Homo sapiens: one gene and its partners. The protein of the gene in region 3 purifies or fractionates together with the protein of the main gene of each other region. This does not show direct contact. Each region holds a gene or a part of one and is shown on either strand. Other genes may lie near its edges. The genes, in order: IQCB1, THADA, CA14 and TNPO2.

The links.
Region 1: the proteins of CA14 (region 3) and IQCB1 purify together in Homo sapiens (affinity purification with mass spectrometry; 3 studies listed by BioGRID and IntAct, with this or other methods). This does not show direct contact.
Region 2: the proteins of CA14 (region 3) and THADA purify together in Homo sapiens (affinity purification with mass spectrometry; 3 studies listed by BioGRID and IntAct, with this or other methods). This does not show direct contact.
Region 4: the proteins of CA14 (region 3) and TNPO2 purify together in Homo sapiens (affinity purification with mass spectrometry; 3 studies listed by BioGRID and IntAct, with this or other methods). This does not show direct contact.

Annotation. Positions count from the first base shown.
Region 1 is NC_000003.12:121,769,244-121,776,074, forward strand, and holds the end of IQCB1 (IQ calmodulin-binding motif-containing protein 1), read right to left. Parts: intron 3,471-6,831; coding exon 3,314-3,470; intron 1,332-3,313; coding exon 1,102-1,331; 3' UTR 518-1,101; downstream 1-517. UniProt on the Homo sapiens protein: Involved in ciliogenesis. The function in an early step in cilia formation depends on its association with CEP290/NPHP6.
Region 2 is NC_000002.12:43,292,026-43,299,056, reverse strand, and holds part of THADA (tRNA (32-2'-O)-methyltransferase regulator THADA), read left to right. Parts: intron 1-5,843; coding exon 5,844-6,223; intron 6,224-6,834; coding exon 6,835-6,953; intron 6,954-7,031. UniProt on the Homo sapiens protein: Together with methyltransferase FTSJ1, methylates the 2'-O-ribose of nucleotides at position 32 of the anticodon loop of substrate tRNAs.
Region 3 is NC_000001.11:150,253,108-150,260,792, reverse strand, and holds the start of CA14 (carbonic anhydrase 14 precursor), read right to left. Parts: upstream 3,020-7,685; 5' UTR 2,665-3,019; coding exon 2,610-2,664; intron 643-2,609; coding exon 622-642; coding exon of another isoform or gene 545-621; intron 1-544. UniProt on the Homo sapiens protein: Reversible hydration of carbon dioxide.
Region 4 is NC_000019.10:12,713,933-12,720,932, forward strand, and holds part of TNPO2 (transportin-2), read right to left. Parts: coding exon 6,947-7,000; intron 5,405-6,946; coding exon 5,329-5,404; intron 5,247-5,328; coding exon 5,097-5,246; intron 1,808-5,096; coding exon 1,701-1,807; intron 1,607-1,700; coding exon 1,473-1,606; intron 1,393-1,472; coding exon 1,311-1,392; intron 1,238-1,310; coding exon 1,115-1,237; intron 1,008-1,114; coding exon 889-1,007; intron 1-888. UniProt on the Homo sapiens protein: Probably functions in nuclear protein import as nuclear transport receptor. Serves as receptor for nuclear localization signals (NLS) in cargo substrates.

The DNA of each region.
Region 1 (6,831 bases), on a different chromosome or scaffold from region 3:
TCCCAGTTTACATGGTTGGCTTGAGTCCTCAGCTATCTAATGGGCTCAAGAAAAATTATTGTTCTAGATTATCTGGCATTTTCTTTGCTAAATTGGGAGCAACACTCTTACATAATTTTTCTACATTTCTTTTCCAATTATAAGTACAAATATAGGAATTTTGATTAGAATTTTACTAAAGTTAACATTAGAGATTGCGCAATATTATACAATTTGGTCTTTACATCCAGAAATACTGGTATTTTCACTCATTTTACAAAGAGCATCTTCCAGATTCTTTATGATATGGAGTCATGATTTGTTAATTGATTTTAACTTAAATTCCATATTGTTACAAACACAAATTGAAGTGGCTTCAATGTTATGGTATTAAAACATATTTAAAGTAAACAGGGAAACTGAAAAGTATTAGGTTGGAACCAAATAATCATAAAGGTACCTAGGATTGTAACAAAAATTAAACATTATATTTAGCTTTGAGATTCCTAGGAGAAAAGACAAAAAGGGAAACAGTACATTATGTAGTTCTCACAGTTTAATAGAAAGAATGCATTTTTTTGGTATGCAGTTCCTTTTAGAAATAACAAAATAGAAAATGAGTTCAACCATTGCTTTATAGAAAACAGGGAAATGTCCTTCAATTGAGCATTTCTTTTCCTCACATTAATAAAGTCTGCACACACCTCCTATGTTAACAGGAAATAGGAATTTCAGATAACAAATGTGAAAAGTTGAAATAATCCTGACAAATTTTTCAAATCAATTGTTGAAAATATTTATTTAGAAAAAAATATTTAGTTGGAAAACAGAAGAAACCAAAGAAAAACACACTTCATGTAAACAACAGAACACTATGCTAAGTTTAGTTCTACAATAAAAGCCACACAAATCTGTGTGTGGCTAACGATGAGGATACAGAGAAAAGAAAAAGAAAATTGAGAGAGAGGTAGAATATAACTCTTTGCTTACTGCAGGTCTTGTCTGGAGGAGAACCTCTGGAAAATAATAAGTTAGGATGGCCCTAGTCTACCAGCATGCCAGAGGCAGAACCAATATAATCTCCTAAAATATGAGATTTGTGTCAATTCTTAGGGTTACTCACTAAGGTGGTTTGGTTCCACCAATGAATAAATTTTCTAATTCTATACTAAGCTCATCCTTTGGAACATCAATCTCATCTCCAGATTCTTCTCCAAGCTTCTTCCACCAGGGTGCTTGTATGTGCTTCAGGGTTGTGAGATGGGCCTGCTTGGCCTTGGCTGCCACAGGCCTGGATCTACTTAGGAAGAGCTCAGGTTCTTTCCCTTCTGCCTCCTTCAGACTTGGTGCCTCTGTAGTGGACAGAAAATAAACAGATGAGCAGAAGAGTCCTATGCCAAGCAGGTAGGAACTTGGAAGCTACAGAGCTGTAACTCTGCAGGCAGAAACAGCATTCCAACTCTGAATGTACTACTTTTGAGAAAGGGTCTTGCTCTATTGCCTAAGCTGGAGTGCAGTAGCAAGATCACGGCTCACTGCAGCCTCAACCTCCTGGGCTCAAGTGATTCTCCCACCTCAGCTTCCTAAGTACCTGGGACTATGCCACCACACCCAGCTAATGTTTTTTCTTTTTTTGTAGAGATCTCACTATGCTGCCCAGGCTGGTCTCAAACTCCTGGACTCAAGCAATCCTTCTGCCTCAGCTTCCCTAAGTGTTGGGATTACAGCCATGTGTCAACATATTCAGCCCATTTCTGTTTTTTTTTGAGACAGAGTTTTGCTCTTGTTGCCCAGGCTGGAATGCCATGGCACGATCTCGGCTCACTGCAACCTCCGCCTCCTGGGTTCAAGCAATTCTCCTACCTCAGCCTCCTGAGTAGCTGGGATTACAGGCGTGCGCCACCATGCCCAGCTAATTTTGTATTTTTAGTAGAGACGGGCGTTTCACCATGTTGGTCAGGCTGGTCTCGAACTCCTGACCTCAGATGATCCACCTACCTCGGCCTCCCAAAATGTTGGGATTACAGGCGTGAGCCACCGTGCCCGGCCATTTCTGTGTTTAAAGGAATTTAAAAAGATGTAGATTTTTGTAAGATGGCTTATTTATTTATATTATTATTTTTTGAGACAAAGTCTCACTCTGTCACCTAGGCTGGAGTGCAGTAGCGCGATCTCTGCTTACTACAACCTCCGCCTCCCGGGTTCAAGCAATTCTCCTGCCTCAGCCTCCTGAGTAGCTGGGATTACAGGCACCCGCCACCATGCCCAGCTAATTTTTGTATTTTCAGTAGAGATGGGGTTTCACCATGTTGGTCATGCTGGTCTCGAACTCCTGACCTCGTGATCCGCCCACTTCGGCCTCCCAAAGTGCTGGGATTAGAGGCATGAGCCACCTCACCCAGCCAAGATGGTTTATTTAAAGAATAGAAACTTTAATAGAACCTCATCCTATAGATGAGAGGCTCAGTTTCAGCCATTTATCCAATTTAAGAATATAAAATTACCAAGTAGTGGCCATTAAATAGAAAACACTGGTCCTTTCTGTTTACATATACTAAAGAAATCCAAGATGCTGACTGAAACACAGGGGCTTCATGGATGGGATCTCTCATTAAATGGATCAGTGGTTATGATGAATTCATTTTTGTAAAGTGCTTCATTAAAAATTATAGGCTAGGCACGGTGGCTCACGCCTATAATCCCAGCACTTTGGGAGGCCGAGGTAGGCAGGTCACAAGGTCAAGAGATCGAGACCATCCTGGCCAACATGGTGAAACTCCGTCTCTACTAAAACTACAAAAATTAGCTGGGCGTGGTGGTGCGCACCTGTAGTCCCAGCTACTCGGGGAGGCTGAGGCAGGAGAATCGCTTGAACGTGGGAGGCGGAGGTTGCAGTGAGCCAAGATCACACCACTGCACTCCAGCCTGGCAACAGAGCAAGACTCCGTCTCAAAATAATAATAAAAAAAAATTTATAAAATGCTCTACAAGTGAATGGCACTGTAACTATTGTCATCATCTACTTACAAAATATGACCAAAAGCTTTTCAGATTACTTAGTAAAAGATGGCTAGTAGGGCTCAGCATCTGAAATTAATAACTTTGGGGTGACACATATGAATGATGGCAAGGCTTGGGGAAACAGGTAAGAAGGTGGTTATAAAATCCGCATCATTTGAAAACATTGTGTGCTGGTCTGATCTATGTAGAAATTTCCTGAGGTTAGGGGATGAGCTAAAGATGCTTAGTAATGGTTTCCTTCTAAAGGTTTTGGATGTCACAAACCTCGCATAGGTTGTTCCTTTTAGAGAACGAAAGTAAAATGAGCACATACTCATTAGCTGTTCAACGTTGGTGCTGATCTGTGCTATCAGAGCTTCTCTGTGCTGCTGGGCTCGCTCTTCTAGGGCCCTGCCCATAAAGTAGTGTTGCAGTCGTTCTTGAGCTTGGGCATGGAGCTCCCTACTGACCACATCTGACATTGGAGAGCCCTGGAAACACAGGACAGAAAAACCTGTCACAGAGAGGACATAGGTATCAAAGTACCCAACCACTTAGCAGAGGTTTTAGACTGCTTAGCTGTCTCTCATTTTATCAATTGAATCTTATGATTGATGTCTATCTTGTACTCTTATGCAAGTATTAATTAGTCTCTTAAAAGTTTTAGATAAAAATAATGGTGGAGAAGTTTTTTGTCTTTCTTTTTTGTATGTGCCTATACTTTACTTTCTCAGACACTGTGGAATTATGGGAGAAGAGATAAGCTTGAGAGATCACAGTGAAAAATTACAAATGGTTTCGTAAAGACACTGGCCTGGGGCCGGGTGTGGTGGCTCACGCCTGTAATCCCAGCACTCTGGGAGGCCAAGGTGGGTGGATCACCTGAGGTCAGGAGTTCAAGACCAGCCTGGCCAACACGGTGAAAACCCATCTCTACAAAAATTAGCCAGGCATGATGGTGGGTGCCTGTAATCCCAGCTACTCGGGAGGCTGAGGCGGGAGAATTACTTGAACCTGGGAGGCAGAGTTTGCAATGAGCCGAGATTGCGCCATTGCTCTCCAGCCTAGGCAACAGAGCAAGACTCTGCCTTAAAAAAAAAAAAAAAAAAAAAAAGACACTGGCCTATAACAGGTGTAACAACGCCAATCCCTTTGTTTCTTTGTTTTACTTCTTATCCCATTCTCACTCCCAAACTTATCCAAGCCATATGTTGTAACTGCTTCTGGATCCACAGAACAAGGGACAAAATCATCCAAAGGACCATGTTCTTTTGGCTAGTCAGCTAATTTAAGGGGAACTTAACTGATTAGTTTGGGCAAGGATGAAATAATCTTAACTTTGGAGGTGATAAAGAACCTGACACCACAGCTTTCTCAAATATTCCTGTTCCTATCCTGGATATGACCCTGTTCCACTAAAACCTTACTTCTCAGCCACAGGATCTTAAACAGCTGCACTAGAGTATGGCTAAAGAAGCACTTTAAAAAAAGAAAAACAGGAGCATGCATCAGAACTACATATAGTGTATTAGAAAAAGAGAGATCAAAGACCTAAACATAAGAGCTAAAACTGTAAAACTCCTAGAAGAAAACACAGGAAAAGCATCATGACATTGGTTTTGGTGATGATTTCTTCATACGACACCAAAGCACAGGAAAAAAAAAACAACAACAAAAACCAGACAAAATGAACTTCATCAAAATTAAAAACCTTGGTGCACCAAAGATCACTATCAAGAAAGTTAACTGGCAGTCCACAGAATGGCATAAAATGTTTGCAAATCATACATCTAAGGGATTAATCTCCATAATATATAAAGAACTCCCAAAACTCTACAAAAAACAACCTGATTAAAAAATGAACAAAATATAACCCTGTGGAAAAAAAAATAAACAAATGACTTGAACAGACATTTCTGCAAAAAAGATAAAGAAACGGCCAATAAACACATGAAAAGATGCTCAAAATCACTAATTAGGAAAGTGCAAGTTCAAACCATAAGATACAACTTCATATCTATTAGCTGCTATCAAAAACAATGACTACAACAAAAATAACTAATGTTGACAAGGATGTACAGAAACTGGAACCCTGTGTGTGACTGGTAGAAATGTAAAATGGTACAGCCACTATGGAAAACAGTATGGCAGTTCCTCAAAAAAATTTTTAAAAAGAATTAGCACACAATCTAGCATTTCCATTTCGGATACTCACCCAAAAGAATTGAAAGCAAGTACACACACAGATATTTGTACACACATGGTCACAGTAGCATTATTCACAATAGCCAAAGGGTGGACGGAACCCAAGTGTTCCTTGGATAAACAAAATGTAGTATATATAATGGAATATTATTCAGCCTTTAAAAGTAGAAAATTCCGACATATGCTAAAACATGAACCTTGAAGACATTATACTAACTGAAACAATGAAGTATGATTCTACTCATGAGGTACTTAGAGTAGGCAAATTCATGGAGACAGAAAGTAGAATGGTGGTTGCCAGAAGCTGGGTAGTGAGGGAATGGTGAGTTAGTGTTTAAAGGATGCAGAGTTTCCATTCTGCAAGATGAAAAAAGTTCTGAAGATGGGATGGTGGTGAAGCTTGCACAAACAATATGAATGTACTTAATGCTACCAAACTACATTTAAACATAGTTAAAATGGTAATTTTTATATTTTATCTATTTTACCACCCTGAAAATAAATAAATTTTAAAAATACAGATACATGAGGCCACACAAAACTTACTGTATCAGAATTTCTTGGGGTGTGTGGGGCTTGGGTATGTAATTTTTATAAAGGTGATTAAATTTGTAAATGATTAAAACTGTTAAAAGCAATATAGTCCTCTCTACAGAGCTTAGGAACTGATTATCTGTTTGTTGGAGAGGAGGCATGCTTCTGTCTGTCTTCATTCTACCTCTGCTCACAGGAAAAATCTTTCAGTTGTGGTTCTGCCCCTCTCTCCAACTCGGTTCTGGTGTTTGGCTAAGGGAGGAGTTGCTAATATGATTGATCAGCACTTAAGAGATTCACTGGCCATATACACCATGGAATACTATGCAGCCATAAAAAAGGATGAGTTTATGTCCTTTGCAGAGACATGGATGAAGCTGGAAACCATCATTCTCAGCAAACTAATACAAGAACAGAAAACCAAACACTGCATGTTCTCAACCATAAGTGGAAGTTGAACAATGAGAACACGTGGACGCAGGGAGGGGAACATCACACACTGGGGCCTATCGTGGGGTAGGGAACTAAGGGAGGGATAGCATTAGGAGAAAAACCTAATGTAGATGACAGGTTGATGGGTCCCAAACCACCCATGGCACATGTATACCTATGTAACAAACCTGCATGTTCTGCACATGTATCCCAGAACTTAAAGTATAATAATAATTAAAAAGAAGAGATTCATTGGCCATGTTTTATTGGTGGCCAGGCTGATTATTTTTAAAATCTCAGGACCCCTAAATTTTTTTTTAAGCATTTAGGTTAAAACAACCTTTTAAAAAATATAGCTTTATTGACGTAAAAATAACATACACTAAACAACAAATATTGAAAGGGTACAATTTGCTAAGCTTTGACATACACATACCTAGTTCATCACTACGTTTCCTTGTTTCCTTTTGTAAACCCTTATCCTCATCCTACCCATCCACCAACTACTTATCCCAAGCAACTACTTATCTATTTAATGTTACTATAGATTGGTTTATATTTTTAGAATTTACATAAAGGGAATCATAAAGAATGTATTCTACTCTGTCTGGCTTCTTTCATTTAGCATAATTATTTTGAGATTCATCCACGTTTTTTTTTCTTTTTCTTTAAAAATTTTTT
Region 2 (7,031 bases), on a different chromosome or scaffold from region 3:
CTGAATAAACTGCATCTGTGTGTTGACTGCATTAGGTCAGGTGTGGAATTTTCCACTTATGGCACCATTTCAACACGTAAAAAGTTTCCGATCTTAGAGCATTTTGGATTTCAGATTTTCAGATTAGAGATGCTCAACCTGTATATGCTTAGGAAATACTTAAAGAGTTAATACTCAAGTCACAGGCAGTGTAGGTCAAGAAGTCCCAAAGGAATGTCTACCTTCATTACACTCATCAGCATGCTTGCTCCCCATCTCCTCCTTCTTTGGGGTAGTGCCTTCATTCCCTGGCTTCCTGGTGATATCATCCCTTCTTAAGGCCCCAGACCAGAAAAATGGGTCTGGGTGTCCAACTCTCAAGTCCAGCAGACTATACTTACACTCAGCCTGGACTATATCCAGAACAGCCCAGATAGTTCTTCCTGTTGTTAATTACAATTTTTTTTTTTTAATTTTTTTTTTATTGATAATTCTTGGGTGTTTCTCACAGAGGGGGATTTGGCAGGGTCATGGGACAACAGTGGAGGGAAGGTCAGCAGATAAACAAGTGAACAAAGGTCTCTGGTTTTCCTAGGCAGAGGACCCTGCGGCCTTCCGCAGTGTTTGTGTCCCTGATTACTTGAGATTAGGGAGTGGTGATGACTCTTAACGAGCATGCTGCCTTCAAGCATCTGTTTAACAAAGCACATCTTGCACCGCCCTTAATCCATTTAACCCTGAGTGGACACAGCACATGTTTCAGAGAGCACAGGGTTGGGGGTAAGGTCACAGATCAACAGGATCCCAAGGCAGAGGAATTTTTCTTAGTGCAGAACAAAATGAAAAGTCTCCCATGTCTACTTCTTTCTACACAGACACGGCAACCATCCGATTTCTCAATCTTTTCCCCACCTTTCCCGCCTTTCTATTCCACAAAGCCGCCATTGTCATCCTGGCCCGTTCTCAATGAGCTGTTGGGCACACCTCCCAGACGGGGTGGTGGCCGGGCAGAGGGGCTCCTCACTTCCCAGTAGGGGCGGCCGGGGCGGCTGGCCGGGCCGGGGGGCTGACCCCCCCCACACTCCCTCCCGGACGGGGCGGCTGGCCGGGCGGGGGGCTGACCCCCCCACCTCCCTCCCGGATGGCGGCTGGCCGGGCAGAGGGGCTCCTCACTTCCCAGTAGGGGCGGCCGGGCAGAGGCGCCCCTCACCTCCCGGACGGGGCGGCTGGCCGGGCGGGGGGGCTGATCCCCCCCCACCTCCCTCCCGGACGGGGCGGCTGGCCGGGCGGGGGGCCGACCCCCCCACCTCCCTCCCGGACGGGGCGGCTGGCCGGGCGGGGGGCCGACCCCCCCACCTCCCTCCCGGACGGGGTGGCTGGCCGGGCTGAGGGGCTCCTCACTTCCCAGTAGGGGTGGCTGGGCAGAGGCGCCCCTCACCTCCCGGACGGGGGGGCTGGCCGGGCGGGGGGCTGACCCCCCCACCTCCCTCCCGGACGGCACGGCTGGCCAGGCGGGGGGCTGACCCCCCCACCTCCCTCCCGGACGGCACGGCTGGCCGGGCGGGGGGGCTGACCGCCCACCTCCCTCCCGGATGGGGCGGCTGGCCGGGCGGGGGGCTGACCCCCCCCCACCTCCCTCCCGGACGGGGTGGCTGCCGGGCGGAGACGCTCCTCACTTCCCAGATGGGGTGGCTGCCGGGCAGAGAGGCTCCTCACTTCTCAGACGGGGCAGCTGCCGGGCGGAGGGGCTCCTCACTTCTCAGACGGGGTGGTTGCCAGGCAGAGGGTCTCCTCACTTCTCAGACGGGGTGGCCGGGCAGAGACGCTCCTCACCTCCCAGACGGGGTCTCGGCCGGGCAGAGGCGCTCCTCACATCCCAGATGGGGCGGCGGGGCAGAGGCGCTCCCCACATCTCAGACGATGGGCGGCCGGGCAGAGACGCTCCTCACTTCCTAGATGTGATGGCGGCTGGGAAGAGGCGCTCCTCACTTCCTAGATGGGATGGCGGCCGGGCGGAGACGCTCCTCACTTTCCAGACTGGGCAGCCAGGCAGAGGGGCTCCTCACATCCCAGACGATGGGCGGCCAGGCAGAGACACTCCTCACTTCCCAGACGGGGTGGCGGCCGGGCAGAGGCTGCAATCTCGGCACTTTGGGAGGCCAAGGCAGGCGGCTGCTCCTTGCCCTCGGGCCCCGCGGGGCCCGTCCGCTCCTCCAGCCGCTGCCTCCCGGGCGGCCGTTAATTACAATTTTAAGAGCAGATTTCTGAGCCATATTTCTGACTGTGCCAAATAAATGAAATTCCTTTTGAATGTAATGCTGTCCTCTAGCAGCAGTGGGTAGGAAGGATAGGGAAATGGTACCTGGAGATGATAGTACTGTGCTCTTATTATTATTAGATTGTTATGAGATTCGGTTTTTAGACATTGAAACAGAGATGACACAGAGGTTGAAGATCCCAGCTGCCCAGGGTTTCCCCCACTGCTTTATAAAGATACTGCCTGGCTGGGCTCAGTGGCTCCCACCTGTAATCCCAGCACTTTGGGAGGCCGAGGCGGGCAGATCACCTGAGGTCAGGAGTTTGAGACCAGCCTGGGCAACATGGTGAAACCCTGTCTCTACTAAAAATACAAAAATTAGCTGGGTGTGGTGGCGTGTGCCTGTATTTCCAGCTACTCTGGAGGCTGAGACAGGAGAATTACTTGTACCGGGGAGGCGAAGGTTGCAGTGAGCCAATATTGTGCCACTGCACTCCAGCCTGGGTGACCGAGGGAGATTCTGTCTCCAAAAAAATAAAAAAATAAAAAGATGCCTCCTGGTGAGCTGGGAATTCTGCAGTGTCTGAGTTAAGAGTAGCGGTATGGCCGGGCACGGTGGCTCACGCTGTAATCCCAGCACTTTGGGAGGCTGAGGCGAGCAGATCACGAGGTCAGGAGTTCGAAACCAGCCTGTCCAGCATGGCAAAACCCTGTCTCTACTAAATATACAAAAATTAGCCAGGCGTGGTGGCATGCTCCTGTAATCCCAGCTACTCAGGAGGCTGAGGCAGGAGAATCACTTGAACCCTGGAGGTGGAGGTTGCAGTGAGCCGAGATCGCACCACTGCACTCCTGCCTGGGCGACAGAGCGAGACTCCATCTCAAAAAAAAAAAAAAAAAAACAGTAGAGGTTTGTCTGCAGCCCCAGATGGTGGCCTCCCTGGGGTCCCATCATGTTGGAGCCCAAGTCCAGTCCCCATTTTGCCCCCTGTGACAGACTTTGAAACAATTTGATGTGTTACATAAATACTCTATATTTTTAAATCTCGAATTATTGCAAGTCTATGCAAATTTTCAATTTCAAATAAATTTTTCTGTTACCTGAATGTTTTACATATGCATTATGTTTATGTTAGTTTTCTAGAAGTCAGCAGAGTTCTCTGAGTTATAATGAGATGATAAATATAAACGGTGTTTTATTAGCTATAAATGCGTATCACTTAAATGCTGTCTGGTAAGCCAATCCAGGATAAACTTGTTAACATCTTGGGTACAGTTGTCAGGATTTATCAGAGAATGCTATGAATATAATATCTAAATTTTGGCAAGGCATTTGGTGAAGTCTGTCATAAGTTCTTGTAGATAAAACTTCATGGACAGAATGATACAATTAAGAGGATTCATAAGTGGGGGATGACTCAAACCGAAGAGGGCTAGTTAATGAATTAGTGAGAGCCTGGAAGAGCGTTTGAGGCAAGGGCCAGCAGGGAGCCTGCTCACCAAAGGCCTCCACCCTCCAGCTTGCCCACATTTTTAGTAATTATTTGATTTTGGGCATTTAGGCATTCCTGTGAAATTGAAGTTTGCCAACTACTTTGTATGCGTTTTTGAGATAGGGTCTCACTTTGTCGCCCAGGCTGGAATGCAGTGTCAGCATCCTGGCTCACTGCATCCTCAACCTCCTGGGCTCAAGTGATCCCCCACCCAGCTGACTTTTTATTTTTTGTAGAAATAGATTTTCACAGTGTTGTCCAGGCTGGTCTCAAACTCCTGGGCTCAAGCAGTCCTCCCACCTTGGGCTCCCAAAATGTTGGGATTACAGGCATGAGCCACCACGCCCAGCTGGTTTACCCAATTTCTATTAGATGATGAACATGTGTGAAGAACTGGGTGCTGGGAGGTACCCGAGACTCCTACCCTAGTCCGCACCCTCATTCCCTAGTCCTGCCAGTTTTATCCCTTCAGTGTTTTTTTTTCTTTCTTTTTTGCCTTTTTAAATGATCACCTTGGCTTCAGACCTTCAGCGTTTCTTAAACCCACCTTCTCCTGATTCCTTCTGAACTTAAGGCCCTCGTCATTTATTTCTCTCCTGGACTACGGTGCAGTAGTGTTGTAACTGGTCTCCCTGCCTCTAATATTGCCTCCTCAACGATAAGAGCACTTCAGTGAAAATGGGCCCCTGACCTTACTGCTTAAAATAACCCCCCAGTGGCATTCCGTTGCATACAGAACTAGCTGCTTCACATTGTCTAGGAGGCTTTCTGTACTCTAGCCACATTTCTTCCCTAGCCTCATCTCCTGCCCTTTCCCACCTCAAATTTTATGCTCCAGTGTTATGGGATGGCCTGTAGTTCCCCACATGGTCCGTTCTGTTTCATGCCTTTGTTGAGCCTTTGCTCAGCTGGTTCCCCTGCCTTTGGTGGTGCTAACACATTGTCACCTGTCTTCCTCTTTGAGGCCTAGGTTATCATTTGTACCACTATATTGGAATTATGTGTTCATGCATTTCTCTTTCTCAAACTAGACTGACTATAAACTCCTTAAGGGCAGTGATCTTATTTAGCTCCTAGCACATAGTAAGCAGGCAATAAGTTTTTGGTTTTTTTATTTTTTTAATCAGAACTGAGAATATGAAAAGATCTCGGCAAATGAAAGGTAGACCATAAAACTTAACAGGAGGATAAAATTTAACAGGGATATACTTGGGCTTAAAATAAACAAAGAAAACACATCTTGGCTTAAGTACTGAGTACAAAGTGGGAGAAAGATGACTCACCACCATCAGTAGACCACGTCAAAAAAGAAGGGCTGTGGTTTCAGTTGACTTTGTGCTCCATATGAGTCAACAGTGTGATGCAACTCCAGTTCAGAACAGAGAAAGTAATAGTCCTGCGGGTCAAACCATGCAGGAGATTTGTGATCCAGCCTATTGGCCATCCTTTAAGAGAGGGTGAGGCATGTCCACAGGAAAGCAGCTAGAATAATGAGAGACAGTGACCCCATCATTTGAGGAAGGAAGTAGGAATGTTTCATCTGGAGAAGACAGAGGGGACACAAGAATTGTAATCAAATGTCTAAAGAGCTGTCATTGGGAGCCTCAAAATGTAGCATTAGGCCAGTGAGTAGAAACACAAAAAGAACTTTTTGACAATTAGATCTACTAACAATGGAATAAGCTGTCTCATGAGCTCCAGGGTACTGTAGGGTTCAACCAAGAGCTTCTGGGAAAGGGTGTTACAGAGGGGAGCTTCACCCCTGAAGGAAGTTTATACTAGATGTCCTCTTCTCATGGTCAGCTTTGAGGCTCGGTGATAAGAGGTCACTGAGTTCGTATTTATTGAATGTTGAGGAGGGGTGCCAGGAACGCATTTTCTAATAGTAATGCCTTTGTGCCCCTGTTGGAAAAATTATACATTACCTAAATGGAAATTGTTGTGGACTAGAAGTCTGAACCTTAGAGGGCCACTCACTTATGACAGTGTTTGAAATCTGCTTATGGGAGACATCTGATGGCCTCACGCAGTGGATTCAGTCTTCATTCTTTCATGTCCTTTTGTGGAAATTTAAAGTGATTATCTCTTTCCCTTTTGCTTTTTTTGCTTCTTAGTTCTGGAGAGTCTTGGCTTCTGGGAGGAAGTCAGAGGGATTATCTCAGGATCAGAGCTGATAACGGGATTCCCTTGGGCCTTCAAGGTGCCAGGCCTGCCCCAGTACCTCCAGAGCCTCACCAGACTAGCCATTGCTGCAGTGTGGGCCGCGGCAGCCAAGAGTGGAGAGCGGGAGACGAATGTCCCCATCTCTTTCTCTCAGCTGTTAGAATCTGCCTTCCCTGAAGTGCGCTCACTAACACTGGAAGCCCTCTTGGAAAAGTTCTTAGCAGCAGCCTCTGGACTTGGAGAGAAGGGCGTGCCACCCTTGCTGTGCAACATGGGAGAGAAGTTCTTATTGTTGGCCATGAAGGAAAATCACCCAGAATGCTTCTGCAAGGTAAAGTCTCCAACGTACTGACTGGCCCTTTACACTCCCCACATTCTTTTGTGAGCCACTGGAATGGTAGGATCATGAAGGCAAGATTGGGTTTAGGCTCTCCAGGGGCAATAGGAAGTAGATTCGGCAGCCAGTGGATAAGGACTCTCTTTTTATGGTGGTTGGCATGGCGTCATACCTGGTAGGGCACCAAGAAAAGCTTTTGATGATAGGAGTATTGATGGCAGAGATTAACCAAAGACAGAGCAAACCACTTTGGGATGTTTAGGAAACAGATCATTAAAAATTCACTGTAGAGTGTGTCAGAGGTAGTCTTTGCTGACATGGCTATTTCAGGGCAGTTGGCCACCTGGGAAGCATAATCAAAAGGAAAGGGCACTGGCCTAAAATCAGGGCATCTGGCTCCCATCCCAAGTCACTAGAGGCCCTCTGGTTAGTCATTGCATCACTCTGCCTCAGTCTCCCAAAGGTATTATGGGGGAAATAAGAAGTCAGTGGGAGCCTTTTGAAAGGTAGACCTCTTGTTGATACAATTGATTATCATGTAACATCTAGAGACATCTCCCTGAGTATTTATTTCTCTTTTTTGTGTGCGGATTTGGCTTACACAGATACTGAAAATTCTCCACTGCATGGACCCTGGTGAGTGGCTTCCCCAGACGGAGCACTGTGTCCATCTGACCCCAAAGGAGTTCTTGATCTGGACGATGGATATTGCTTCCAATGAAAGGTTTGCCCCCAAAACCTCCTGTGCAACCTTGGTAAGATGTATGGTCCCATCAGTCATTATGTAATGAACTTGCACACA
Region 3 (7,685 bases):
GCAAGACTCTGTGTCAAAAAAAAAAAAAAAAAAAAAAATAACCTAGAGAGATACGGTCTCCTGGAGGCCCCTATCAAGTGGCCTTGGGATTCAGATATCCTGACTTCTCATCATTCACTTCTTGCTCTCACACTGACCGTTTATCATGAACTTGAGTTTGGTTAAGTCATTAATCAGTAGTTCATAGGAACTGAGTTCCACCTCCCCCAGGGTCAGAAACTATCCTGCCAGCCTCTTCCTCACCCCTGACCTCCAGCTCTGTCCCAATTTCAGATGCAGGTTAGGGGTAGGATGGATTAGGATAGACGGAGCCAGAAGGAGACCTGGCAGCTAAGCTCAGAGTTCCCACCCAGCTTCCTTTCCACCCCAGCTCCCTCACTCCTACACGATTTACTGAGGACTTAACTAGCTTTTCTGCCAAATCAGGAGGTGTAGGATTTGATGATTAGAGCAGGATCTAGGAGCCATATATGTGAAACTCAAGGCAGGAGGAGATCCAGAAGGGAGGAGCTAGGGTGAGAAGGTAAAGGAAGTCTCCTCCCACCCGCACAGTGTGTCTTCCTGCCAGGTGAGGAGGTCCCAGTGTGAAAGGGTTGTCGGGAGGCCTTGAGATCTGCTCACCCTCATACGTCCAGTGTTGACCTGCAAGGCAGAATAGTTTGGGTTACAGCCAGCGCAGCCTGGGGCAGAACCCTGGCCTCCACACTCCCCTCCCTCTGGCATTCTGTACTGCTCCACCTCCCTCTCTGCAGTCTCTCCTCCCTCTGCTCCAGCACTTTGCAAAGGAAGCCCTGAAACCGGACACCTCTGTGGAAAGGTCGGGGGGCCTATTTAAAATCACCAGCCAGGCTGTGTTGGTGCCTGCCGAGTAAAAGGGGAGGAGGAAGGAAAAGAGGTAAAGCCCAGAGACTAAAATTAACCTGGATCCAAATGTGCGATTGGCCCAACCCTTTCTTTTCTGTAACCTGTGCCAAGTCAATCTAACACTTAGAAGATTGGGGTGGGTGGGGTGAGGGTGTGGGCAGAGGGTTGGAAGGATAGGGACTAGAAAGCGGGGAGGAGAAAGGAGTTTAGAGTGTGTGTGTGTTGGGGGGTGCTACTGAGGGGAGAAGGGGAGATTATTCCTTTGCTTTAAAAAATTGCATGAATAAAGCCACTGAGCTGTAAACTCATATGTAAATTCTTCTTTTCTGGTCCCATTAGCTCTAGAGGAAACTCCTCATCACCAGGAGGCTCTGCTCCCTACATTCTGAGATGGTTAGGGAAGGGTGGGAGTCAGGGCAGGGTCTACTCTAGATTGAGGGTGGTGGGTGGGCACAGGCAGCCAGGCTGGCAGGGACAGGATGAAAGTGAAGCATTGTGTGTAGAGAAGAGAGCTGCCAGCTGGGTCACATGCCAGGCTCTCGTGCAGTCCTGTCTGACGCAAAGGCTGAGGGTCTGCAGGTCCAGCCCCTCCCTACGGCCAAACTGCCTCAAGAAGAAAACGAAGGCCTTCATGGTTTATGCTGCAATATTCATACTACTAGAAACTCTGGAGAAAAATCCTAAATTCCTTCCTCTCTCTGTCTCTTATTCCCTTAAATTCCTCAAACTTGTGAGATGTCCTGCTCTTATCCTTGACCTATTCTGCTAGCCCAAGGGAGAGCTGGAGGCAGCCTCTCATTTTACCATATCTGTGGGACCCCCCAACAACTCAAACTCCCTGGTCTGTAAAGGTGCCTGTCCACTCTGGTCAGAGCCTCAACACACTTATTCTGTCTCTTCCTCCTCTTTCCCTCTTTTTTTCTTTCTCCTCAGATGAGATTTGTGACTCTCCATTTGGCTGCCTGCCTGCCCCCATCCTCTCTGCATTTGCCTTCTGCTCTCTGGACACCCACCTCACCCTGCTCTTTCCACAAACCTCAGTTACACACCTAGTATGTGCTGGACACTGTGCTAGGCACAGGAAACACAAAAATGAGGTCTAGGAGTTCCTGGGGACACTCCTGGAGCGCTTCAGCCTGTTCTCCCAAGAATCCCTCCTCATCTCCTGGGAGCTCCTGAAAGTCCTTTGTAAACTGTAAAATGTCAAACAAATGTTGACTCTTACTGCCACTTTCAGAGGATAACTGGGGAGTTAGTCGCTCCACAGAATGAAGAGGGAATCTTGGCCAAAAGGGGATGAATTGGAGATCAGGGTCTGAGTTGGGCAGGAAGTATTCTTCCCCCTACCCCCATCTATCCATCTTTTTACTCCAGGCCTCTTTGACTCCCTATTTGGAGGAGTTTGTAAATAAAGAAGTCCAGGAGTCCTGCCTGGGACCAGGGCAGTGGGGGAAAGAGCTCTGGAGAAAATCTGTAGCCTGCAAAGAGATTCCAGCACTTGCATGTGTACACACTCTGCCTGCCTGCCGCTAGTTCTCCCCGACCTCCAATAACAACAAGGCTGGAGAGACAAAAGGTAAAGAAGGGAAGTGGTCTCCTCCACACCCCACTCTTTTTTCCTCATCTCTGAGCCTATTATTCCAGCCTCTAGGCTTCCTTTCACACCTCTCCTCCCCCCATTAAGCACACCTGGCGACATGTGAACATCAGCACAAATCCACACACAGACATTTAGTTGTACCTACCCCCATCTGCAGCCAGGATCCAAATCACCTCCAGCAGGAGGGCGGAGAACAACATAGTGTCCCAGGAAGGGGTGCAGGGGACTGGGAATTTGAGGACTAGAGGACTAGGACAGGCAGAGAGAGAGGGAGGGAGGAGTGAGAGAGAGAGAGAGAGAGCGAGCGAGCTCCTGGCGTGAGTGTATTTATCTCTGCTTCTCTTGCTGTCTCTGTCTCTGTGGGCTTCCAGGGGATTCGGTGTTCAGTAGGGTATCATGGGTTTCTGGATCCCCAGGACAAATCTCTTGCTGCCTCTTTGCCCTCTCTCTTTATCTCCCTCTGCAGTCTCCACTCCACTAGCTGGCCAGCGACTTTACAACTGCCTCCTGCTTTTAAGGTGGCTCTGAACTGGTGTATGTGGGGACGGGGGTGCTGCCTGGGCTGCTGGTGAACAGCTCCTTAAATAGCCAATTAGGCATGCAGGATGGCCCCACTCGGAGCTGGAGCGCGGCAAGTTTCACTGGAGCCCTGGCCCTGGCTCAGGAGCCCAGCTGGGGTGAGCTCTTCCTTCCTCTGCTAGTCACACAGATGCTGTTTAGATGGGTGTTCCCTGGAGCAGGCAGGGTCAAGGAAGGGGCTTTGGGGTTCAACTCAGCCCCCTCAAAAGGACACTGTATTTTCATCCCCCCGCCTGATTTCTCCTCTGAGGAGCAGCTCCCTGGGTGGTATGCGGCAGATGGTGGGGGTACCTGTTCCCAATTCCCTGCATAATCTGAGCTGCCCTGGAATGGGAAGAGTCCAGAATTAGGAGATATATAACAAGAAGGAATTAGGGACTCAGGGTGCAGGGGAGGGGTGGAGGAAGTCAATAACTAAAACCTGAGTTGTGTCCTAAGTTCTAAGGAAGAGAAGTGAGGCAAGGAGAACTCATCTGGAGCAATCTCTTCTGTGCCTGCCACCACCCCCTTCCCACGGTGAGGCCTGGGTCCACGTGCCTGTGTGGCCTGGGGTGGGGGGAGTGCGGGGAGGGAGCGTTGTTTGCTGGATAAAGCCCATTTGTATGCCCAGTGGGGGAGGGGTGTAGCAGCACCATGGAGAGACAGCGGCTGTAACTGCCAGACCCAGCCACCTCCCTCTCCAGGGAGCCCAGATCTAGGGCGGCTTTTGTCACTGAAGAGGACACTGACCTCCGGCAGAGAGGCCAGGGCAGGAGGAAAGGAGAGACTTTAGGAACAATCACTACCACCATCAGAAAAAGGTGGTTTCCAGAGAAAGAGAGGGGAGGGTCTGGAGAGACCATGTGATCCAGATGGAAGAGGGGCTCAGGGTCTTCCTTCCAGCCCAACAAAGGGCTGAGGCAGGACATGTGGCACTGAATGAAACCTGCCACCAAGGAGCTGCGTCCGTGGAGCATGGAGGCTGCACGTCTCAGGAATGTGAACTGATGTTTGCTCCCCACGGGACTGGAAATCCCGATTGGAATGTACATCCTAAATCCCTCGTTAGAGAATGTGAAACCCACAGATACTTTCAAGCCAGACATTGAAACCTCTTTCTCCTCCATGCTCTTCACCAGAGGCACCAGCCAGGAGGATGCACCCATCTGAAGCTCCCTCTGCCCTCCTTGCTCCTGCCGAGTAGCAATAAATAGCCAAACAAAGGGAGCAGAAGCTAAATAAGGGAGCAGGATAAAAGCCAAATGAACAGAATAATGCATGTGCTGGATCATCAGCTCCTGCAGAGACAGGAGCTCACTGTGCCTTTCTATCCCCTGTGATTGATCTGCAAAGCCAAGCCATTTTGCTGATGTCATTTCCCTTTTTCTTCTCCTATCACCCTCTGAGTTATTTGTCCCCTTCAGGAAAGTTTTATGTTTTGAGGTTCCCCAAAGCCCCATCCATCCCATCTAAGAAGAGTAAAAGACTTGAAGTATAAATTAGATTTCCCGGGAATCAGGGTACTTAACACAAAGAAACAAAAAAAGAAAGCAGAGACATCTTGGTATGAAAGAAGAGATTTAGTAGGAAAGAAGAGGTCTGAACAGAATGACCTCTGCCGGAACAGAGTTCCCCTGGAGCGCTGAGCTGAGATTCCGATTTCCAAGGCAGATAGCGTGTCTTGCCAGGCGCCACCTCCTGGCTCGTCTATGAATTTTTAAATTTTAATTTAAAATGCTTTGTGTATGTGGTTCCTTCTGGGAGGTATTTCACTGCTGCTGGGCTTTGGGATTTTGCCTACGCAACTGAACATTGTTTCACAAAGATATCTTAGCCTGGAATCAACACTTCCCTGATCTTGGGTGAGCAACGCATCCAGGTGCTTATGCTTCCCAGACGACAAAGGCCCTCCTTTCTAGGACAGAGGGAGCCAGAAGGCGAGCGCCGTCCTCCAGGCACTTGACTTTATCTTGATCTTTGGCTTTACTGTGGATATTTCTTTTGTTGCTTTCTAGCTGTGCTGATTTGGAGTAGGTGTCAAGGGGACCCTTATATGTAAGTTAAAAAAAAAAAAACTGACACAGCTCCCTCTCCCCACTCAGTCTTAGTTTCCACTCAAACTCTGGCACCTTTGTTTTAGTTCTGACCTCTCTCTCAAGCCCTTTCCTTGCTTGCATTGGCTAAAACCGTTAAAACCAAAACCAAGCATCTCACTGCCTTCTGGCGCCATCTCCTGTCCTTGTAGATATACTGAAACTTGACTGAGATGAGGCGTGGTGGCTCACGCCTGTAATGCCAGCACTTTGGGAGGCCGAGGCAGGTGGGCCAGGAGTTCCAGACCAGCCTGGCCAAAGCATAGCAAAACCTCGTCTCTACTAAAAATACAAAAATTAGCCAGGCGTGGTGGTGCATGCCTGTAATCCCAGCTACGCAGGAGGCTGAGGCAGGAGAATTGCTTGAACTCGGGAGTGGGAGGTTGCAGTGAGTTGAGATTGCTCCACTGCACTCCAGCCTGGGTGACAGAGTGAGACTCTGTCACAAAAACAAAAAAGAAAAAACAAACAAACAAAAAAGAATTAAGTAATTTTGGAAAAAATGACCCTTTGGATCATTTTCTTAGTTTTCCAGTTCACATTACACAACAAATGTAGTATGAGAATCTTGTAAATTGAGGACCGGTAAAAGTTTGTGGTCTGAAAATTTGCAAGTCATTTAATTATAAGCGATAAGTTACACTATTTCAGTTGCAATTTTGTGTTATACATTGATTCCATGAACAGAACGCTGCCTGGTACATAACTGTTGATTGAATGAATCTAGTAATTGCAACATTTATTTACTGTCTTTCACAGAATTTTAGAGCAGAAGGGCCCTCAGGCATCATTCTAAACCCCTTGTTATACCCTGTAAAACTGAGTTTTGAGAGATTTAGGGATTTAGCCATGGTTAGTCATATAGCTGCTAGGCTAAACCAGAACAAGGACACAGGCACCAGTGAGCTTTCTCCTACACCATTGGTTCTCAAATGTCAATGTGCATCAGAATCACCTGGAAAGCTTTTTAAACTTGGAAAGCTTATTAAAATACAGATTTCTGGCCAGGTGCAGTGGCTCATGTCTGTAATCCCAGCACTTTGAGAGGCCGAGGCGGGCAGATCACCTGAGGTCAGGAATTTGAGACCAGCCTGGCTAATATGGCGAAACCCCATCTCCACCAAAAATACAAAAAAATTAGCCAGGTGTGGTAGCGGGTGCCTGTAATCCCAGCTACTTGGGAGGCTAAGGCAGGAGAATCGCTTGAACTTGGGAGGCAGAGGTTGCGGTGAGCCGAGACTGCACCACCGCACTCCAGCCTGGGTGACAAGAGCAAAACTCTATCTCAAAGATAAAATAGAATAAATAAATAGAGATTTCTGGACCTCACCCCCATAGTACCCGATTCTATAGTTCTGGGTGTGTCCAAATCTACATTAGAGATTTGGCATTAGAGAAATTAGCATTTCTCTTTCTCTCTCTCTCTCTCTCTTCTTTTTTTTGTACAGTCTCAGCTGGGCGCGGTGGCTCACGCCTGTAGTCCCAGCTACTCGGGAGGCTGAGGCAGGAGAACCGCTTGAACCCAGGAGGAGGAGTTTGCAGTGAGCCGAGATAGCGCCATTGCACTCTAGCCCGGGCAACAGAGCGAGACTCCATCTCAAAAAAAAAAAAAAAACAGAGTCTCACTCTGTTGCCCAAGCTGCAGTGCAATGGCATGATCTTGGCTCACCGTAAACTCTGCCTCCCAGGTTCAAGTGATTCTCGTGCCTCAGCCTCCCAAGTAGCTGGGATTACAGGCATTTGCCACCACGCCCGGCTAATTTGGTATTTTTAGTAGAGACGGGGTTTCTCCATGTTGATCAGGCTAGTCTTGAACTCCCTACCTCAGGTGATCTGCCTGCCTCAGCCTCCCAAAGTGCTGGGATTACAGGTGTGAGCCACCACGCCCAGCCTCTCTCTTTTTTTTTGGAAGCAGGGTCTCACTCTGTCCCCTAGGCTGGAGTGCAGTGGCAGAATCATAGCTCACTTCAGCCTCAAACTCAAATGATCCTCTTCTCAGCCTCCTGAGTAGCTAGGTCTACATGCGCATGCCACCATGACTGGCAGGTTTTAAAAATTTTCTTAGTTTTTGTAGAGACAAAATTTTGTCATGTTTCCCAGGCTGGTCTCGAACTCCTGGGCTCGAGTGATTTGCCCAGCTTGGCCTCCCAAAGTGCTGAGATTATAAGCATGAGCCACCGCAGCCACTTCTTTCTAGTCACCATGAATAAAAGCACTATAAGTATTTGAGTACAGGTCTTTGAGCAGACATATGTTTTTATTGTTCTTGAGTAAATACCTAGGAGTGGGAATAAATAGATACTGAGTGCTGGATTGTACGGGAAGCGTATGTTTAACTTTGTAAAAAAACTGCCGGGCTGTTTTTCTTTTACTTTCTTTTCTTTTGAGACGGCATGGCTCTGTTGTCCAGGTTGGAGTGCAGTGGCGTGATCTTGGCTCACTGCAGCCTTCCCTTCCTGGGCTCAAGCGATCCTCCCACCTCAGCTCCCAAGCACCTGAGACTACAGGTTCATGCCACCACTCCCAGCTAATTTTTTAATTTTTTTGTAGAGACAAGGTTTCACCATATT
Region 4 (7,000 bases), on a different chromosome or scaffold from region 3:
GGTAGGAGGATTGCTTCAGCTGGGAGGTCAAGGCTGCAGTGAGCCATGATTTTGACACTCCACTCCAGCGTGGATGACAGAGCAAAACCTTGTCTCAAAATAAAAAAGAAAAAAATGATTTGGAGAGAGGCAAGCAATCCAAGTTTGTCAAGGAGGGTCAGTTTTAGGACTTTTGTTGGAAACACTGGTCGAAAATTTCTTTACTCTGAAGTTCCTAAGCTGGAAGGGCACAGAAGGCTACAGCACTACCCAGAGGGAAGGTTGTGCCTAAGAATGAAGCCAACACAAGGGAAGCAGATCTGAGACCACAAAGATGCCTTTCACATCCTTTGAGCTCCTGGATACAGCCATACCCCTGAAGCCTTTGTTGATTTTTCATTTCTTTTTTTTTTTTTTTTGAGACGGAGTTTTGCTCTGTCACCCAGGCTGGAGTGCAGTGGCACGACCTTGGCTCACTACAACCTCAGCCTCCTGGGTTCAAGCAATTCTCCTGCCTCACCCTCCCAAGCAGCTGGGACTACAGGCGCCTGCCACCACGCCCAGCTATTTTTTTATATTTTTAGTAGAAATGGGGTTTCACCGTGTTAGCCAGGCTGGTCTCGATCTTCTGACCTTGTGATCTGCCCGCCTCGGCCTCCCAAAGTGCTAGGATTACAGGTGTCAGCCACCACATGTGGCCATTGATTTTTCATTTCTTTCCACCTATCAGTTACCTAATTTTGAAGTCTTCAAAAAGTGGCATTCTTACCACTTACACATAAATATATACTGAATGTAAACTGACAAGGATGTGGACTGAGAGAAGCACAGCAGGTGACCAGAAGGGAAGGCAGAGGCATAGCAAGGGGTCGAAGCTGGGGTAGGACAGTGGGCAGCAGCAGCACTCACTGGACCAGATGGGAGGCCAGGACTTCCTTGCAGATGGGCTGCTCGGCCAGCGTCAGCCAGAACTCACAGGCCTCAAGGGCAACGTTCTCATCATGGTCCTGGGTCCTCTGCAGCATGTACTGTGGTAGGGGGGAGAAGCTGAGGCCTGGCCTGGCTGGGGGTGGCTCCCTGACCCCTGCCACCGGCCCCCTGCCTGCCCGCCTGGGCTGGCCTTGACCATGCACACCTGGATGATGCTGTGCATGTGGGGGATGAGCCTGTCAATCCGCACTTCCAGAAGCATCACCAGGGCACGGCACACATTCTTCCGCACCTCGGGGTCATCATCCACAGCCAGGGCAAATAGGTGCTGCAGGGAGGAACAGGGTCAGTTGTAGGGGCCCTCAGTCCTCGCCCTGCCCACCCCCAGCCCAGCGGCCCACCTCGATGAAGGTGTCAATATTGTCCATCAGCGCCTGGGCCCGGTCCATGATGAACTGGTTCACGCAGGCGATGGCGTGGGACCTGGCGGGGAGCAGACACGTGGGTCACCCTGACCCTGCCCACTCCAGGCTCCCTGGAAGCCCCCAGGGAGCTGCACCCACCGGATCTTGGGACTGCAGTGCTTGAAGAACTGCAGGAACTTGGGGATCATGATGTTGAGGGGCCTGTTGAGGGCGTCACTGTCCAGAAGCTCTGATGAGTCTTCACAGATCTTCTGCAGGGCTCCAAAGGCTCCCTGAGTGCAGAGGGGCAGAGAGACAAACGTGGGTGGTGGGTGGTGGTCCCAGCCCCCCAGTACTCGCTCTGGCCATCCATGGCTTCTTGCCTACCTCACAAGTGTTGTAATCCTCCGAGTTAAGCAGGTTGCAGAGCTGGGGCAGCAGCTCGGGCCACATCTGCAGCTCACCCTTGGAAGCGATGGTGGTGATGAGAATGCCTGGGGCGGCCGGGAAAGGACGCTGCCTGAGGCTGGGCAGGGGCTGCCTAGCACCTCCCCCTCCCACTGGACACCCCCAGTGCTGCCTTTCTGTTCCCTAGCCCATGTACGCCCTCTACATCCCCCCTCCTTTTTTTTTTCTTTGTAAGAGATAGAATTAGCTCTGTTGCCCAGGCTGGACTGCTGTGGCACAATCAATAGTCCACAGCAGCCTCAAACTCCTGGCCTCAAGCCATCTTCCTGCCTCAGCCTCCTAAGTAGCTGGGACTGCAGGCACATGCCACCACGCCCAACTAATTTTTAAAATTGTTTGTAGAGATGGGATCTCACTATGTTGCCCAGGCTGGCCTAAAACTCCTGGCCTCAAGCAATCCTCCTGCCTTGGCCTCCAAAAGCACTGAGATTACAGGCGTGAGCCACCGCTCCTGGCCTTGACATAGGTAGAAGGGTACTCCTTGACTCAGTAGGCACCCTGAGCCTTACTGTGAGTCAACTCTGTTCCAGGCCCTGAGGCACAGCACAGAGCAAAACACAAAATCCTCACCCTTGGGAGCTGGAAGCAAGCTATGAAGTAAAGATAAATTAGCAAAAAAAACTGGGAGGGGCCGTGCATGGGTGGCTCATGCCTGTAATCCCAGCACTTTGGGGGACCGAGGTGGGTGGATCACTTGAGGTCAGGAGTTCGAAACCAGCCTGGCCAACATGGTGAAACCCCATCTCTACTAAAAATACAAAAATTAGCTGGGTGTGGTGGGGGGCACCAGTAATCCCAGCTACTTGGGAGGCCGAGGCAGGAGAATCACTTGAACCTGGGAGGCAGAGGTTGCAGTGAGCAGAGATCGCGCCACAGCACTCCAGCCTGGGATGGAGCAAGACTCCATTTCAAAAACAAACAAAACAAAAACAAACAACTGGGAGGGGCCACATGCCAAGGACTAAGGGGGGAAATACAGCAGAAAAGATGGTGAGAAAGGGCTGTAGGTGAAGGTAGCAACTTTAAATTGGGTGGCCAGAGCAGGCCTCGTTGAGGTGACATCTTGATATCTGAGCCAAGGCCTGAAGGAGGTGAAGGAGGCGAGGGAGGAATCATCCAGGTTTCTGGGGAAAGGGCATCTGAGGCAGGGGACTCTATGGTGCAAAGGCCTGGCGTAAGGACAGGCATGATGAGAGAGGGAAAGGAGGTAAGGGCAGGAAGGTGGCAGGGATGCTTGTACTGCCTATTAGATATCCAGGAGTTACATACAGCAGGCATCTGAGGTGCCAGGACAGTGCACATATCTGGTGACAGAGCTGGATATGGGTTCTGTTAAGTGCAGAGATGGTATTTGCTGCCATGAGATGGCAGTGTTTCCCAAGGGTGGAAACTCAACGAGAGAAAGGTGCTCCCTGCAATGGGTAGGTACACAGTGAGGATTGTGGAACTTTAGCCACACCCCCTCATTCTGTGTGCCTCAGTGCTTCCAGCCCTCAGAAGAGATAAAGAAAACCAGCCTCCTAACTAAGGTTATCAGTAGGTTTCTTTTTCTCTCTTTTTTTTTTTTTTTTTTTTTGAGATGGAGTCTCACTCTGTAGTCCAGGCTGGAGTGCAGTGGCACAATCTTGGCTCACTGCAACCTCCACCTCCCGAGTTCAGGTAATTCCCCTGCCTCAGCCTCTGAAGCAGCTGGGATTACAGGTGCCCGCTGCCACACTCAGCAAATTTTTGTATTTTTAGTAGAGATAGAGTTTCACCATGTTGGCCAGGCTGGTCTCGAACTCCTGACCTCAGGTGATCCACCTGCCTCAGCCTCCCAAGGTGCTGGGATTAGAGGCGTGAGCCACTGTGCTCAGCCTGGATCAGTAAGTTTCAATGACTTAGCAAAGAGCCTGGCACATAGAATGAGCTCAGGAAGTCCACATCCTACTACTGGCCTGGGAGGGGGTTTTTGCAGGACTAAAAGTTACTTTTTATTTTTGAGATGGAATCTCAGTCTGTTGCCCAGGATAGAGTACAGTGGCATTATCTTGGCTTACTGCAACCTCTGCCTCCCGGGCTCAAGCAATTCTCCTGCCTCAGCCTCTCGAGTAGCTGGGATTACAGGTGCCCACCAGCTGTAATTCCCAAGTAATTTTTTGTATTTTCAGTAGAAACGGAATTTCACCATGTAGGCCAGGCTAGTCTCCAACTCCTGATCTCAAGTGATCCGCCTGCCTTGGCCTCCCAAAGTGCTAGGACTATAGGCGTGAGTTACCACACCCAGCCAGAAGTCATTTTTTTTGTTTTTATTTTATTTAGTTTTTTTTGAGATGGAGTCTTGCTCTGTTGCCCAGGCTGGAGTGTAGTGCCGCAATCTCGGCTCACTGCAACCTCTGCCTCCTGGGTTCAAGCAATTCTCCTGCCTCAGCCTCCTGAGTAGCTGGGATTATAGATGTTCACCACCACGCCCAGCTAATTTTTTTTTTTTTGAGATGGAGTCTCGTTGTATTGCCAGGCTGGAGTGCAGTGGCGCCATCTCGCCTCACTGTAACCTCCAACTCCTGGGTTCAAGTGATTCTCCTGCCTCAGCCTCCCGAGTAGCTGGGACCACAGGCGAGTGCCACCACGCCCAGCTAATTTTTTCTATTTTTAGTAGAGATGGGGTTTCACCACATTGGCCAGGATGGTCTTGATTTCCTGACCTTGTGATCCGCCCACCTCAGCCTCCCAAAATGCTGGGATTACAGGTGTGAGCCACCATGCCTGGCCAGCTAAGTTTTTTGTATTTTAAGTAGAGACGGGGTTTCACCATGTTGGCCAGGCTGGTATTGAACTCAACCTCTGGTGATTTGCCTACCCTGACCTCCCAAAGTTGCTGGGATTACAGGCGTGAGCCTATTCTTAGTCATCTTTCTGTAACTTCCTCAGGCCACCTTCCAAGAGTCAGAAAAGGCTCTGCTGAAAACCTAATTCCGTTGCACCTGAAACATGAATACCTGCATTATTTTAACTGCTATACCCTTAGCACTCAGCCCAAGGCCGAACACAAAATTCTAGATGTTGCATGACTGTCTCAGAGCCAAGAAGGACTGTTTCAGGAGGGAGTGGTTCCAGAGCGTGGCCCTGCACTGCCTCAGCTGTTTCTGACTTCTGCTGCTTACCCAGACAGGTCCCTTAATAGCTCAGCGCCTCAGCTTCCTCATCTATCAAATGGCAATAGTAATAGTACTACCATAGAGGGTGCCAGAGCATTCCATGAAGCACTACACTTAACATGCTGAGAAGTGAGAGTTCAGTGTGTCCTCAGAGGCCAACCCCCGCTGCCCCTCTCACCAATGGTGGCTCGGATGAGCGAGGAGGCATCGCCAATGTTGTTGAGACACTCCTGTTTGATGAAGTCTGCCACAGGGGGTGGGAAGCTCTGATAGTGTGCCTTCACGTTGTTCTTGAGGATGAGGCCACTGAGAGAGCGCGTTGGCTCATCTGGGAGGAGGAAGGCTGAGGTTCAGGGGCCCAGGGGGAGAAAGCAGGGTCCCGATCGCATGGAAGGGAGCAGAGGGCGTACCTTCTGACTTGAGTCTGGTCAGGACGAAAATCAGGTAGTTGTTGAAGTCAGGAAACTGATTGAGTTGTTTGAGTTTCTGCCAGGCTGTTAAGGGACTTGGAAGACAGAGGCCTTCCCCCAGCCAGGTCCCCTCATTATGTACCTGACACTATCTCTGACCACTGGGACCAGGCTGCCAGCTCCTGGGGGATCCCGCTCCCTAATAAGCCCACAATGACACAGAGCACCTCAGACACGTCAAATTCATATAAGGGGCCGGGCGCGGTGGCTCACGCCTGTAATCCCAGCACTTTTTGGGAGGTCAAGGCGGGTGGATCACAAGGTCAGGAGTTCGAGACTAGCCTGGCCAGCGTGGTGAAACCCCATCTCTACTAAACATACAAAAAAATTATCCGGGCATGATGTGTGCGTGCCTCTATTCCCAACTACTTGGGAGGCTGACGCAGGGGAATCGCTTGAACCCAGCAGGTGAAGGTTGCAGTGAGCCGAGATTGCGCCTCTGCATTCCAGTCTGGGCGACAGAGCAAGACTCCATCTTGAAAAAAAAAAAAATCATACAAGGAGTTGGGTGGAAATGTCTGAGTTTCCCATCCACTCCTGAAGACCCAGCCAGAGCAGGAGAGGGAAGGAGAATCCCACTCCTCTTAAAGTGGCAGCTACTAGTCAGCGATCCCCACTAACAGGCCATGAAGACTTTTTTTTTTTTTTTAAAAGAGGGAATCCAAATTTTGGGGTGAGTCATGCTCATGGTTTAAATATTTATTTATTTATTTTCAGACAGAGTCTCACTCTGTCACTTAGGCTGGAGTGCAGTGGCACGATCTCCGCTCACTGCAACCTCCGCCTCCCAGGTTCAAGCGATTCTCCTGCCTCAGCCTCCCAATTAGCTGAGATTACAGGCTTCTGCCACCACACCTGGCTTAATTTTTGTATTTTTAGTAGAGACAGGGTTTCTCCATGTTGGCCAGGCTGGTCTCAAAACTCCTGACCTCAGGTGATCCGTCCGCCTCGGCCTCCCAAAGTGCTGGGATTGCAGGCGTGAACCACCGCGCCTGGCCTATATATCTTTTCTTTGAGACAGGGTCTGGCTCTGTCGCCCAGGGTGGCTGGAGTACAGTGGCACAATCTCAGCTCACCACAACCTCTACCTCCTGGGCTCTAGCCATCCTCCCACCTCATCCTCCCAAGTAGCTGGGACTACATGTGCATGCCACCACACCTAGCTATTTTTTGTATTTTTTGTAGAGATGGGGTCTCCCTATGTTGCCCAGGCTGGTCTCAAACTCCTGGGCCCAAGCGATCTACCTGCTTCGGCCTACCAAAGTGCTCCGATTACAGGCATGAGCCACCCCGTTGGGCCAGGGCCTACTTTAATAGTTAATGGAGTAGATGCTAGCGTTCGATGAACATTAGGAATTTTCATCATTTTCTATAACAATCCCCGCAGCTCTGGAAATGGGACCCAGGAATTGTAATCCTTCTCTGTCCAGGGCAGATCCTCCGCACAGCAGAAAAAATCTGGGGACTAGGGGAGTCAGTCCCTCTCTTTCTCTCTCTGGCCTTTGGAAACTGCACGCATCTACCCGGCTCCCCCAGCCCCGGAAGGAAGGAAGGATACATCCTGCACGATGCGCTGAGTGGCTGTGTTGGGCGACTGTGAGTCTTTGAGCAG